Homo sapiens: one gene and its partners. The protein of the gene in region 2 purifies or fractionates together with the protein of the main gene of each other region. This does not show direct contact. Each region holds a gene or a part of one and is shown on either strand. Other genes may lie near its edges.

The links. The genes of interacting proteins can lie anywhere in the genome.
Region 1: the proteins of FGB (region 2) and MCTS1 purify together in Homo sapiens (affinity purification with mass spectrometry; 2 studies listed by BioGRID and IntAct, with this or other methods). This does not show direct contact.
Region 3: the proteins of FGB (region 2) and PPID purify together in Homo sapiens (affinity purification with mass spectrometry; 2 studies listed by BioGRID and IntAct, with this or other methods). This does not show direct contact.
Region 4: the proteins of FGB (region 2) and HDLBP purify together in Homo sapiens (affinity purification with mass spectrometry; 2 studies listed by BioGRID and IntAct, with this or other methods). This does not show direct contact.

What each region holds. Positions count from the first base shown.
Region 1 is NC_000023.11:120,607,101-120,610,600, reverse strand, and holds part of MCTS1 (malignant T-cell-amplified sequence 1), read right to left. Parts: intron 2,377-3,500; coding exon 2,243-2,376; intron 1-2,242. UniProt on the Homo sapiens protein: Translation regulator forming a complex with DENR to promote translation reinitiation.
Region 2 is NC_000004.12:154,561,675-154,565,810, forward strand, and holds the start of FGB (fibrinogen beta chain isoform 1 preproprotein), read left to right. Parts: upstream 1-1,336; 5' UTR 1,337-1,344; coding exon 1,345-1,458; intron 1,459-4,133; coding exon 4,134-4,136. UniProt on the Homo sapiens protein: Cleaved by the protease thrombin to yield monomers which, together with fibrinogen alpha (FGA) and fibrinogen gamma (FGG), polymerize to form an insoluble fibrin matrix. Fibrin has a major function in hemostasis as one of the primary components of blood clots.
Region 3 is NC_000004.12:158,713,397-158,716,896, reverse strand, and holds part of PPID (peptidyl-prolyl cis-trans isomerase D), read left to right. Parts: intron 1-1,212; coding exon 1,213-1,335; intron 1,336-1,493; coding exon 1,494-1,600; intron 1,601-3,500. UniProt on the Homo sapiens protein: PPIase that catalyzes the cis-trans isomerization of proline imidic peptide bonds in oligopeptides and may therefore assist protein folding. Proposed to act as a co-chaperone in HSP90 complexes such as in unligated steroid receptors heterocomplexes.
Region 4 is NC_000002.12:241,232,173-241,235,672, reverse strand, and holds part of HDLBP (vigilin), read left to right. Parts: intron 1-78; coding exon 79-183; intron 184-417; coding exon 418-552; intron 553-1,709; coding exon 1,710-1,853; intron 1,854-3,500. UniProt on the Homo sapiens protein: Appears to play a role in cell sterol metabolism. It may function to protect cells from over-accumulation of cholesterol.

The DNA of each region.
Region 1 (3,500 bases), on a different chromosome or scaffold from region 2:
CACTCTGTTGCCCAGGCTGGAGTGCAATGGCGCAGTCTTGGCTCATTGCAACCTCTGCCTCCCGGGTTCAAGCAATTCTCCTGCCTCAGCCTCCCGAGTAGCTGGTGCTACAGGCGTGTGCCACCACACCCAGCTAATTTTTGTATTTTTAGTAGAGATGGGATTTCACCATGTTGGCCAGGCTGGTCTTGAACTCCTGACCTCATGATCCGCCTGCCTCAGCCTCCCAAAGTGGTGGCATTATAGGCGTGAGCCACCATAGCCGGCCGTTTGTTTTTTTGAGATGGAGTCTTGCTTTGTCACCCGGCTGGAGTGCAGTGGCATGATCTCAGCTCACTGCAACTTCTGCCTCCTGAGTTCAAGCAATTCTCCTGCCTCAACCTCCCTAGTAGATGGGATTACAGGCGCATGCCACCCCACCCAGCTAATTTTTGTATTTTTAGTACAGACAGGGTTTCGTCATGTTGGCCAGGCTTGTCTCGAACTCCTGACCTCAGGTGATCTGCCCGCCTCAGCCTCCTAAAGTGCTGGGATTACAGGCATGAGCCACCACACCCGGCCTGAATGGTGGTTTTATGTAAAGGCTGTTTTAAAATAATAGGTAAATTCCCAGTCTATCTTTAAGAGCCTGATATAACAGTTTCAACCTTTCTAGAAAAACCAGAGTGGTCTTGGTTAACATATGAAGTTTCTGGAATGTTAAACACTGCAGTACATATTTTAAAAAGTCAAGATTCAGGGTACACAAGACCTCTCTGTACCATTTTCTTTAACAACTTTCTCTAAATCTGTAACTGTTTCAAAATAAAAATTATTTTTAAAAGTAAAGACTAGGTACTAAGGAAATTTTCCATTTAAGGTTAACTCCAGAACTATAAATTTACCAACACTTAATAAATATTAAAAACAAACAACAACAACAAAAAACCCGTCCTCACTTTTCTCCCTTGATTTTCAATTCACTCAGTGTTCCAAATATGTGAGCACCTATTAGGCAAAAAGCATGTCAACATAAGCTGTTCCTAGAATATAAACATACTACTTATACTACCTCTTCGCTATAACTGCCCCAACAGAGAATATCATTTTTTTTTCTTATTCTTCTTAAACACACCCCTGGCCAGGTGTGGTGGCTCACACCTGTAATCCCAGCACTTTGGGAGGCCAAAGCGGGTGGATCACCTGAGGTCAGGAGTTTGAGACTAGCCTGACCAACATGGTGAAACCCTGTCTCTACTAAAAATACAAAAATGAGCCGGGCGTGGTAGTGGGTGCCTGTAACCTCAGCTACTCGAGGGGCTGAGGCAGGAGAATTGCTTGAACCCAGGAGGCAGATGTTGCAGTGAGACAAGATCGTGCCACTGCACTCCAGCTTGGACGACAGAGCGAGACTCCATCTCAAAAACTAAAATAAGATAAACACACTCTAAAAGTAGTTTCCCTATTCCCACCAAGTACCATTCCTTTTCTATACCCGAGGCAAATGGCTACTTTAGCTATGATAAAGGAGAAGATGTTCTCCTGTCCAGAATAGTCACAAAAATCTATTTAATCCAGAAAATAGCTGAAACAGCATGGTAGAAATGGAAATAATGCAGAATTATTCAGCTATGTCATGAGTTGAATCGATCTTTAAGGACCATCTGGGACTCTGACATTTCTCTTTGAGAAAACGTGCTCTGAGGCCCCCAAACTCAACTTTTCAAATAATTAATTTTCAAAATAAAAGTTGGAGGTTGCCAATATTTCCCACTATTCACTCCTAACACAAAATTGTTGCTTGGTAAGAGATACCTATACCTGGTGCCTAAATTCTTTTCCCTTTTGAGAGCTTTCACTCCAACGTATGTCAGTAAGTCAAAATGAACATTACAGTGGCAAGTTGATATCCAAAAAGCTGATCCAATTATATCATCTATATCCTTTCCCCTAGTAATCAAGAATTCCCTATTGTGTCCTAAGTCTGATAACAGTAGGCCCTGACTGGGCTGAAATGCAGCTGAGACTCTTCTGTAACTTGTTCTCATTTAACTTCTAAGAAACGACCTAAGATGAGATAATTTAGTAGCAACAAATAAAATTACTTTGTACAACTTCAAATGTAACCAGAAAGGCATGAGATAAGAGTAACAGTAACCTTCAAAAAAGTACATCTAATGTTCTCTTGGATGGTACACCTTTCGCAGTAATGATAAGAGCACAATGAATACATTTTTCAGCAGTTTTAGCCTGGGAAGGATACAACAATGGTATCTACTGCAGCAGGGTAAAGCTTAGCTCCAGGAGAAGTTAAGCCTGGACACATGATATTTGCTCCACTGAGTACAAATTTGATGGCTCCTTTATCAACCTGCTGGTGTGGCAGGATAAAAGGATCTGTAAGAAAAGATATACAATATATTAATAATAAGACTAATGACTCAACAGAAAAAGGCAAAGGATCTGAACAGTATTTCCCCAAATTAATCTGACAGATACAAAAGAAAACTCTGAAACACTATCATTTGTTTACCAAATTGGTAATCTTTTTTGTTTGTTTTTTTGAGACAGGGTCTTGCTCTGCCACCCAGGCTGGAGTACAGTGGAGCAATCAATACCTCACAATAACCTTGAACTCTTGGACTCATGCAATCTTCCCGCCTCAGCATCCCAAGTATTCTCCAAAAACCGTAATTTCAAAACTATGGTTTTTGGAGACTACTTAATATGCCCTGGGAAATTTTTGTGATATAATGTTAAGTGAAAAACGCAGAGTAAAAAAACGATTAAAAAGATCAGTGGTTACCTGGGGTTGGGGAAGTGGGGGGAGGAAGGATGAATAGGTGGAGCACAAAGGATGTTAGGCCAGTAAAACCATTCTGTATGATACTTTAACAGTAGATACTTGACATGTATTTGGGAAAAACCATAAAACTGTAGAATACAAAGAGTAAACCCTAATGTAAACTAAGGACTTGCGTTAATAATAATGTATCAATGCTGGTTCAATTGTTACAAATGTATCATTCCAAAACAAGATGTTATTCATAGGGGAATCTGAACTGGGGAGAGGGAACTCTATTCTTTCTGCTTACTTTTTCTGGAAACCTAAAACTGCTCTAAAAAATAAAAGCCTGTTAATTTAAAAAAAAACTACAAGGGGATGAGGAGAAGTTGGTTAAGGGGTATAAAAATACAGGTCGATAAGTTCTAGTATTCGAGAGTACAATAAGGAAATTATATTTAACAATGATTTACTCTATATTTCAAAATAGCTAGAAGAATTGTAATCTTCTCAACACAAAGATAAACGTTTGAGGTGACAGATACCCTAATTACCCTGATTTGATCATTACACGCTGTATAAAGGTATCAAATATCACATGTACCCCTAAAATATGTACAACTATTATAAATATATATAGGTGGTGGGGGATACAGGCACCACAACAGCAGACAATGTACAGCTATGACGTATCAATTTTTAAAAACTATGTAACAGAGAGCCCAATTTTAAAAAA
Region 2 (4,136 bases):
CATTGCTAATAAAGGGAACACAAATTTGGAAAGACTCAAGTGAATATTTTTTCTTAATTTAAACTGAGTACTTTGTCTCTATTAAGCTAAGTTAAAAGAATTTGGGAGGACAACCTATGCTACCAAGAGAATAATTTGTTTCTAGGAATCTGAGTTAAAAGAATTTGGGAATGCAATCTCTGCTACCTGGAGAAGAAAGAAATGTCGTGGGTCCCACACCATTCTCAAGACTCTGTTTCAAAGCATTGTTTCAATACGCTGATCCAAACCCTGATAACCTGCCATCTTTTTAATAAAATAATTTATAAATTTAATGAGAATGTTTCACTTTCCATACAAAAAACAGAAAAATGCTTTGAATCAATGCACTTACTGGGATTTGGATTACTGACTGGTGTTCCTATTGATTCTTGTAGGAGTTATTAATCCTGATTGCAACACACAAGTGAACAGACAAGAGAGATAAATTTTGTGGCTTGTGGGAAATGAAGGAAAATGGGCCTCATTTAGTCTGTGAGCATACTAATTGAAATAGATGTATGAAGACTTCACCAGTGTTAAAATAACATTGTTTTTATAAATCATATGATATAAACTATATAACAATAAAATAGAATGTTAAACATGTATTTAATCATCATCATAATTTTGATTCAGAAATCTATAATTTATTAGTTATCTTAATAATGTTTAGAATTTGTTGAACATTTTACCTTATGTGAATTAAGGACAAAATATTAAAGCTATTCAGCACAAAAAAAGGGTCTTTCTGATGTGTATTTTTCATAGAATAGGGTATGAATTTGTTATTTTGTTATTTTGATTAATGTCTAAAACAAAAGATAAACACATTATGATATAACATTACTATTGATTTTAATGGCCCCTTTTGAAATAGAATTATGTCATTGTCAGAAAACATAAGCATTTATGGTATATCATTAATGAGTCACGATTTTAGTGGTTGCCTTGTGAGTAGGTCAAATTTACTAAGCTTAGATTTGTTTTCTCACATATTCTTTCGGAGCTTGTGTAGTTTCCACATTAATTTACCAGAAACAAGATACACATCTCTCTTTGAGGAGTGCCCTAACTTCCCATCATTTTGTCCAATTAAATGAATTGAAGAAATTTAATGTTTCTAAACTAGACCAACAAAGAATAATAGTTGTATGACAAGTAAATAAGCTTTGCTGGGAAGATGTTGCTTAAATGATAAAATGGTTCAGCCAACAAGTGAACCAAAAATTAAATATTAACTAAGGAAAGGTAACCATTTCTGAAGTCATTCCTAGCAGAGGACTCAGATATATATAGGATTGAAGATCTCTCAGTTAAGTCTACATGAAAAGGATGGTTTCTTGGAGCTTCCACAAACTTAAAACCATGAAACATCTATTATTGCTACTATTGTGTGTTTTTCTAGTTAAGTCCCAAGGTGTCAACGACAATGAGGAGGTGAATTTTTTAAAGCATTATTATATTATTAGTAGTATTATTAATATAAGATGTAACATAATCATATTATGTGCTTATTTTAATGAAATTAGCATTGCTTATAGTTATGAAATGGAATTGTTAACCTCTGACTTATTGTATTTAAAGAATGTTTCATAGTATTTCTTATATAAAAACAAAGTAATTTCTTGTTTTCTAGTTTATCACCTTTGTTTTCTTAAGATGAGGATGGCTTAGCTAATGTAAGATGTGTTTTTCTCACTTGCTATTCTGAGTACTGTGATTTTCATTTACTTCTAGCAATACAGGATTACAATTAAGAGGACAAGATCTGAAAATCTCACAAACTATAAAATAATAAAAGAGCAGAATTTTAAGATAAAAGAAACTGGTGGTAGGTAGATTGTTCTTTGGTGAAGGAAGGTAATATATATTGTTACTGAGATTACTATTTATAAAAATTATAACTAAGCCTAAAAGCAAAATACATCAAGTGTAATGATAGAAAATGAAATATTGCTTTTTTCAGATGAAAAGTTCAAATTAGAGTTAGTGTGTATTGTTATTATTAATAGTTATGAAACACGGTTCAGTCTAATTTATTTATTTGTAGAACAGTTTGTCCTCAACTATTATTTTTGCTGACTTATTGCTGTTAATTTGCAGTTACTAAAAATACAGAAATGCATTTAGGACAATGGATATTTAAGAAATTTAAATTTTATCATCAAACGTATCATGGCCAAATTTCTTACATATAGCATAGTATCATTAAACTAGAAATAAGAATACACAATAATATTTAAATGAAGTGATTCATTTCGGATCATTATTGAGTTTCAAGGGAACTTGAGTGTTGTACTTATCAGACTCTACATGTAAGAACATATAGTTAATCTGGTTGTGTGTGTAAAAACATATGGTTAATCTGGTTAAGTCTGGTTAATCATATTAGGTAAGAAAAATGTAAAGAATGTGTAAGACGAAATTTTTGTAAAGTACTCTGCAAAGCACTTTCACATTTCTGCTTATCAACTAAACCTCACAGAGATAGTTTAATAGTTTAGGCTTTAAAATGGATTTTGATTATTCAACAAGTGGCCTTCATAATTTCTTTAAGTGTTTTTCTTTAAGTATATACTTTCTTTAAATATTTTTTAAAATTTCCTTTTCTCTAGTAAAGCCAGACCATCCATGCTACCTCTCTAGTGGCACTCTGAAATAAAAAGAAAATAGTTTTCTCTGTTATAATTGTATTTGTAATAAGCAGATGAATCACATTTCTTAAAATTTGTTTTAGAGAGGGTAAGCTCTGACTAGGACCATGACTTCAATGTGAAATATGTATATATCCTCCGAATCTTTACATATTAAGAATGTATATAGTCAACTGGTTAAACAGGAAAATCTGGAACCAGCCTGGCTGGGTTTTAATCTTAGCACCATCCTACTAAATGTTAAATAATATTATAATCTAATGAATAAATGACAATGCAATTCCAAATAGAGTTCATCTGATGACTTCTAGACTCACAAAATTGCAAGAGAGCTCAGTTGTTGCTCAGTTGTTCCAAATCATGTCGTTTGTTAATTTGTAATTAAGCTCCAAAGGATGTATAGCTACTGACAAAAAAAAAAATGAGAATGTAGTTAATCCAAATCAAAACTTTCCTATTGCAATGCGTATTTTCTGCTTCATTATCCTTTAATATAATATTTTAAGTTAGCAAGTAATTTTAATTACAATGCACAAGCCTTGAGAATTATTTTAAATATAAGAAAATCATAATGTTTGATAAAGAAATCATGTAAGAAATTTCAAGATAATGGTTTAACAAATAATTTTGTTGATAGAAGATAAGACTAAAAGTGAAATTCGAAGTGGAGAGGACACTTAAACTGTAGTACTTGTTATGTGTGATTCCAGTAAAAATAGTAATGAGCACTTATTATTGCCAAGTACTGTTCTGAGGGTACCATATGCAATAAGTTATTTAATCCTTACAATAATCTTGTAAGGCAGATTCAAACTATCATTACACTTATTTTACAGATGAGAAAACTGGGGCACAGATAAAGCAACTTGCCCAAGGTCTCATAGCTGTAAGTCAACCCTACGGTCAAGACCTACAAGTAGCCGAGCTCCAGAGTACATTATGAGGGTCAAAGATTGTCTTATTACAAATAAATTCCAAGTAGAATCAACCTTTAATAAGTCTTTAATGTCTCTTAAATATGTTTATATAGGAGTCTAATCACCAATTCACAAAAATGAAAGTAGGGAAATGATTAACAATAATCATAGGAATCTAACAATCCAAGTGGCTTGAGAATATTCATTCTTCTTGACAGTATAGATTCTTTACAATTTCGTAAGTTCCAATGTATGTTTTAGGAATATGAGGTCATTACTATTCATAATCTGATACAGCTTTATCCTAAGGCCTCTCTTTAAAAACTACACTGCATCATAGCTTTTTTGTGCAGTTGGTCTTTCTACTGTTACTGAACAGTAAGCAACCTACAGATTCACTATCACCAACCAGCCAGTTGATGGATCTTAAGCAAATTATCAAGCTTGTGATAACCTAAATTATAAAATGAGGGTGTTGGAATAGTTACATTCCAAATCTTCTATAACACTCTGTATTATATTTCTGCCTCATTCCTTGTAGGGT
Region 3 (3,500 bases), 4.2 Mb from region 2:
CTCTGTCTCCCAGGTTCAAGCTATTCTCCTGCCTCAGCCTTCTGAGTAGCAGGGATTACAGGCGCGCGCTACAACACCCGGCTAATTTTTTCTGTATTTTTAATAGAGACGGGGTTTCACCATGTTGGCCAGGCTGGTCTCAAACTCCTGACCTTGTGATCCGCCCACCTCGGCCTCCCAAAGTGCTGGGATTACAGGCATGAGCCACCGCACCCAGCCTGTTAGTTGCTATCTTAAAGAAATATAAGTAAAAGGATCAGGTGATTATTAGCTGGAAAAATGTTATAATAATTTTGGGTATAGGAGCCAGGATCTGCCACTTTTTTTTTTTTTTTTTAACTTTTCTACAATGGGAAAGACAATTAGGGTAGTTTTAAAGGAGATTTTTATTATTTCAACTTTCATTTGGTGATCTTTGCTAGTTTACGTTAAGTCTTCCTATACCTGCAAAACTGTTCAGTTGGTATGTATAGTAGTACATAGTGGAATGAGGATAATAAGCCCAAAATCTTGTCTGGATTGTAGCATTAACTAGAGGCTTGGCCTTGACTTTGTTACTTAACTTTTCCACACGTGTTTTCTCCTGTCTAAATTACTTATGGGTTTAGACTAGATTATCTCTGAAGACCCTTGTGTACTTAATGTCTGTGAATCAAAATGACCTTAATATTGGCTGGGCATGGTAGCTCATGCTTGTAATCCCAGCACTTTGGGAGGCTGAGGTGGGAGGATCACTTGAGACCAGGAGTTGGAAACCAGCTTTGGCAACATAGTGAGATGCTGTCTCTATTAAAAAAAAAAGAAAAAAAGAAAAACCCCTAAACGACCATAATACTACCCAGCCTAAGTGACAGGGTTGTGAGTGGGAGTTGGAAGCTCAGTTACTTGTAGGAGGTAGGCTGTCACTCAGTGTATGACAAGAATAGTAGTAAACCGGAAGCTCATGCCCCACCTAATGCCACTTACATAGACAATGATAAAATTGCCAACTTATTCTGTGTTTATTGAGCTCCTGAATAGCAATAAAATGCTTATGTAAATACTAACATTGTCGTATTAGTTGGAATGTATAAAAACAGCATTATAGTACATAAATGAGCCTTCTCACATAAATCTGTGAATTGGACAGTGCTGCACATGACTTCAGCTGTATAGCTTTTATCTCTCATTATTACGATAGTGCACTTCTACAATTTAGGGTTATTTTTACAGTTGTGCGTTATTGCAGAATGTGGAGAATTGAAGGAAGGAGATGACGGGGGAATATTCCCAAAAGATGGCTCTGGCGACAGTCATCCAGATTTCCCTGAGGATGCGGATATAGATTTAAAAGATGTGAGTACTTTCAGATTAGTCAAACTTTAATTAATTTAGTAAGTGAAAATATTTAGTACTAAAAGTTTGAGCTTTTGTTTCAGTCTCTCATATGATAGAATCTAGCATTAAACCACATTACTTACTAAAATCCAACATATTTGTATTTTTTTATACAGGTAGATAAAATTTTATTAATAACAGAAGACTTAAAAAACATTGGAAATACTTTTTTCAAATCCCAGAACTGGGAGATGGCTATTAAAAAATATGCAGAAGTTTTAAGGTAATATTATTTCTAACAAATTATTTTTAAGAAATTATAAATTGAATTATAAACTAAAATTAAGAATTGCTCATTATATTTTTGCAAATTACTTGTGGAATAACCAGGTGTGTTGAAATAGTTGCATTTCCTTTTTTTTCCCCTCAGCTTGTTTTGAGAAATTTCAAAAGACAGAAGTTGAACGAGTAGTACATAATTACTCATAAGTTTTACTTACATTCACCAATTTTTAACTTTTGCTGTTTACGTTTTTACAGAACTATTTTGATAGGAAGTTGTTGATACTGTGATACTTTACCCTAAGTATTTCAGCACGTATTTCCTAAGAAACAAAGACATTCTGCATAAGTTCAATACCGTTAAAACACCCCAAAGTAATATTGATAGATAATATCAATCCATATTTAGGCTGGGCATAGTGGCTCATGCCTATAATCCCAGCACTTTGGGAGGCCAAGCTGGGCGGATCACCTGAGGTCGGGAGTTCGAGACCAGCCTGGCCAATATGGTGAAACCCCATCTCTACTAAAAATACAAAAATTAGCTGGGCTGGTGGCGCACGCCTGTAATCCCAGCTACTTGGGAGGCTGAGGCACAAGAATTACTTGAACCCAGGAGGTGGAGGTTGCAGCAAGCCGAGATTATGCCACTGCACTCCAGCCTGGGCGACAGAGTGAGATTCTGTCTCAAAAAAAAAAAAAAAAGTAATCCATATTCCAACTTCCCCAGTTGTTTCAATTTCTTAGAAAAATCAAGGGTCCAAACTAAGATTATGTGTTATATTTAGTGGTAGTATCTCTTACGTTTCCTACCTCCCCTGGTTTTTTATTCATTTGCATTTTTGTGGAGTCCAAGTCAGTTGTTTTTATAGACTTTCATCTGTATGTGTTTGTTTCCTTAAGATTAGTTTGAGGTGAAATATTTTGGCAAGAAGACTTAGGTGTTGTTTTGTATTACCTATGATATCACATCCTGAAGACACATTTCGCTTTGGCCTGTTTGAGTTCACACACATGGTTAAAGTAGTGTCAGCCACAAGCATTTGTTAGTCTGAGGTGGTATCGTGAAATTGTATGAATTTCTAGTCCCCAACAACTTTTCACACAGTGGATCTTAGCATCATTGAAAATCCATGCCTGAATCTGTTATACTGAACTTCTAAGTTTATCATCGTACAGTTATTAACTAGCATTCTTCTGTTTGCAAGAGCCTCCCGCATATTTTTTAAGTATCACTATAGACCTGTGGATATTTTTCTTTTCTTTTTTTTTCCTTTTATAGAAACAAGGCCTCCTTTATATTGCCCAGGCTGGTCTGGAACTTTTGGGCCCAAGCAATCCTCCCTCCTCACCTTCCCAAGTAGCAGGGACTAGAGGATATCTTATGGGTAGTTTTCAATTCCGTTTGTTAGTACGCTATTATTGTCATTCTTTTTCATGCCCAAAGGGTTCCAAATTTGTTCAGTGGAAGGCCCCTTTCCTTTGGCATGTTCCTATTAGTCTGCGAGCACTTGCTTGCTCTAAGCTCATCTTACCTTACTTTCACATCTGATATGGCAGTTTCTCCAAGGACCTCTGATTTCTTTTAGAGAAAGAAAACTTTAGAAACCAAATTCTGGGGGCCAGGTGTGCTCAGTTTTGGGGCCCTTTTCAGGGACAATGCAAAATCAACACAATAGAGTTCTCCTTCATCTTTCCTCTACTGAATTCCCTTCTCCTATTATGAGAATCCTGGTTCCAAACATAATTATGTTGGAAAGTACATAGTGGGGACCTGAGTTTTAAAAATAGAAAAGTGTTACTAGTGCATAATTAGATTTGGGAATTGCTCTTAAATTGGCCTCTTTGAACACTTTGGGGAACAAAAACAATTTTTTTTAAGCCTTCTTAAAAATTTTAAA
Region 4 (3,500 bases), on a different chromosome or scaffold from region 2:
GTGGAGCCCCATTGCTGAGCTTACAACGTCACTCTGCTCTCAGCTCCCACGGCCTAACCATGACCATCCTCCCTGCAGGCATTGGTTCCTGTCACCATTGAAGTAGAGGTGCCCTTTGACCTTCACCGTTACGTTATTGGGCAGAAAGGAAGTGGGATCCGCAAGATGATGGATGAGTTTGAGGTAGACCCCTTTCCCGGGAGGCCATGTCACAGGAGTGGCCTGTCGCATCCTCTCCCGAGTGCCAGTGTCCTTTCTCAACTTCCTGTTGACTCTGCCTCCTCCTGCTCGGACTGGGCACTGACTTCCCTTCACGGCGGGTGGCCTTCCCTCTCACCACTTCTGGGTCCCAGGGCCAATGGACTCTTTCCTGTTCTCTGGGGTCCTGAACGTCAAGTCAGCCCCCTCTTCACGTAGGTGAACATACATGTCCCGGCACCTGAGCTGCAGTCTGACATCATCGCCATCACGGGCCTCGCTGCAAATTTGGACCGGGCCAAGGCTGGACTGCTGGAGCGTGTGAAGGAGCTACAGGCCGAGCAGGAGGACCGGGTGAGCAGGAGGTGGCCGGGGCACTGCCCAGAGCCATGGTGCTCAGCTTTGGGCACATGTCAGAATCTAGGGAAGTTCTTCAGGATCCCAGCATCCCAGCGACATCTGGCTGGAGGTGAGATGCAGGCAGTGCCAGGACGCAGTCAGCATCCAGGGGTCTTGCTGTGGAACTAGCCAAGAGCATGGCACCTTTCTCTTTTTCATAAAAAAGTGACAAAGTTGGACTTCCGTGTAAATTTGCAGTTTCTCTCAAAACCAAATCAGAGTGGTACCTCAGACCTACAAGAAAGGTCAAGGTTGCGAGAGGCCCCCAAGCATGTGCTATGCAGTGAGGACGAGCATCGGGGACCCCCACTAACCTCTAGCACAGGGTGGTCAAAGGGCGAATGACTTCCTGGTAAGCAGGGATGAAACCCCCCCAACCTCTGGCAAGGCTGACGTTTGAAGGATTGTATGAGCGGAGCGCTGCAGACGCCCAGCCTCTGGCAGGGCTGACATTTGGAGGATTGTGTGAGCAGAGTGCTGCAGACAGGAGCAGGGGTTCTGGAACTTGGAGCAGACTGTGCTGGGGTGCTGGTTTGCTAAGGGGGTTGGCTTTCCACTCCTCCCGTGAGCACGTCGAGTCTGGTGAATGGGGTGGAGCTCGTGAACCTCACATGGTGTCAGTGTACCCCTGCGTGGACTCTGGGTTGTCTCCTGCAGCCAGGTCATACCTGTAGCCTTTGGCCATGGGTGTTCAGGGGCTGTGGCTGCCCCCTCTTCTTGGTCTGCATCTGCCCCAGTCCTAAAAAGATCCAGAGCATTTCTGTGCGTATCCATCAGATCCCTGTTTGACAAATGAGGAGAGCGGGGCCCCAAGCTCGTGACTCACTGCCTAGCTCTGTCAGTTCCTGAGCACGATCCTCGCAAGTGGTCCCAAGCCCTCTTTTGAAGGATTTATAGACCTCCTTGTGGAGCAGCCAAGTTCCCTGGTTCTCATTATTAGCAGATAATGGAAGGTGGCAGAGGTCGGACCAGAGAGATGGCGGACCATTCCGGACCACGGGTTACAGAACACTGCAGCATCTCCAGTGTCCTATGACCAGGGTGGAAGGGGAATGGAGTCACAGGGTGGATCAGCTCAATCTTTGCCTCATTCTTGCTCCTTTCATTTGTAGGCTTTAAGGAGTTTTAAGCTGAGTGTCACTGTAGACCCCAAATACCATCCCAAGATTATCGGGAGAAAGGGGGCAGTAATTACCCAAATCCGGTTGGAGCATGACGTGAACATCCAGTTTCCTGATAAGGACGATGGGAACCAGGTGAGAGCCTCGGTTGGAGCGTGTCGGGGGCAGAGGTGCTTGTTGACCTTTCCTGTGACTTGGGAGCAGTAACCAGATGTGCCTAGATGGGGGTTCGAGGGCCAAGTTGAGAGTGGCAAGTCTCTCAGGACCTAATTCTGGCTTGAGGTTTGGGCTGTGTCTCGGTACTTGCCAGATGGGTGAGGTCTCTGGCACTATGTATCATCTGGGGCCTGGAGCATTTTCTCCTGCGTCTCCTTCCAGAAAATGAGCAGGAGCTCCAGCTGGGTCCTTGATCAGTGGCGCCTCCAGGTGTAGCTCATTCACCTGTCACCCGGGCCTCTCTGAGGCTCCCAAGGGCTCTCATTCACCTGTCACCTGGGCCTCTTGGGGTCAGGTGGACATTTCTCTGCAGCCCCAGCTGCAAACACCGTTGTGCTTGCCAGATGGTCCTTAGTAAACTCTTGTTGTTACTTCCTCCAAATTGCAGTGCCACCCCCCTGCCACTGGCCCTCATGGCCTCCTGCTTCACTCAGAACAAAATGAAAGGCAGCCCCATCCCCTCTCTGGGCCCTGCCACCTGGCATGCAGGGCAGCCTCACCCAACACCCCCTCTTGCACACACTTCCCAGGCTTGGTCTTTCCTGGCTCTGGCATCCTGCTGGGGTGTCTGCTTCCTAGGCGTGTCCAGCACAGCTTTGCCCACAGTGGGAGACTAGCAAGCCTTGGTGGCCACAGTTGTGCTGGTTTCCAGAAACAGCAAACCCCCTGGCAGCAGAGCCCCTCCACGCCCCTCGCTCCCACTGTGGATGTGCCGCCCAGGGTTTTCCGCTGCTTCCCCTTCCCCTTCCCCTTCTTCCTCCCCAGCTTCTTGTTCCCTTTTGGATCTTTGAGTCACACACACACCAGCCAGGCCAGGAGGGCCCTCCTGCACCCTGCCTCCTCCAGCTCCCACGTCCTCTTCCCTCCCCACATACATTTTTTAATTTTTAGTCTTGATCTTGAGAGTTTAGTTCTTTTTTTTGAGAGAGATAGTCTTTGTCTTGTTGCCCCAGGTGGAGTGCAGTGGCGCGATCTCGGCTCACTGTAACCTCTGCCTCCCGGGTTGAAGTGATTCTCGTGCCTCAACCTCCCAAGTAGCTGGGACTACAGCTGTGAGCCACCGCTCCCAGCCCAAGAGTTTAGCTCTTTTAAGCCCCTCACCCTTATTGCCTTTTATTTCCCTCTACTATTCTATATAATTATCAATCTTAAAAGTCATTATAGGTGAGTCACAGTGGCTCACGCCTGTAATCCCAACACTTTTGGAGGCCGAGGCGGGTGGATCCCCTGAGGTCAGGAGTTCAAGGCCAACCTGACCAACATGGCGAAAGCCTGTCTCTACTAAAAATATGAAAATTAGCCAGGCGTGGTCGCGTGCACCTGTAATCCCAGCTACTCGGGAGACTGAGACGTGAGAATCGCTTGAACGCAGGAGGCGGAGGCTGCAGTGAGCTGAGATCATGCCATTGCACTCCAGCCTGGGCGACAGAGTGAGACTCTGTCTTTAAAAAAAAAAAAAAAAAGTCATTGTTTAGCAATTAGACTATTCCATCTAATACACCATGAGCCAAGTGGGGTGGAGCAGTCATTTCTTCACAGGCAGCTTTTTCCTGTGAGCTGTGCTTC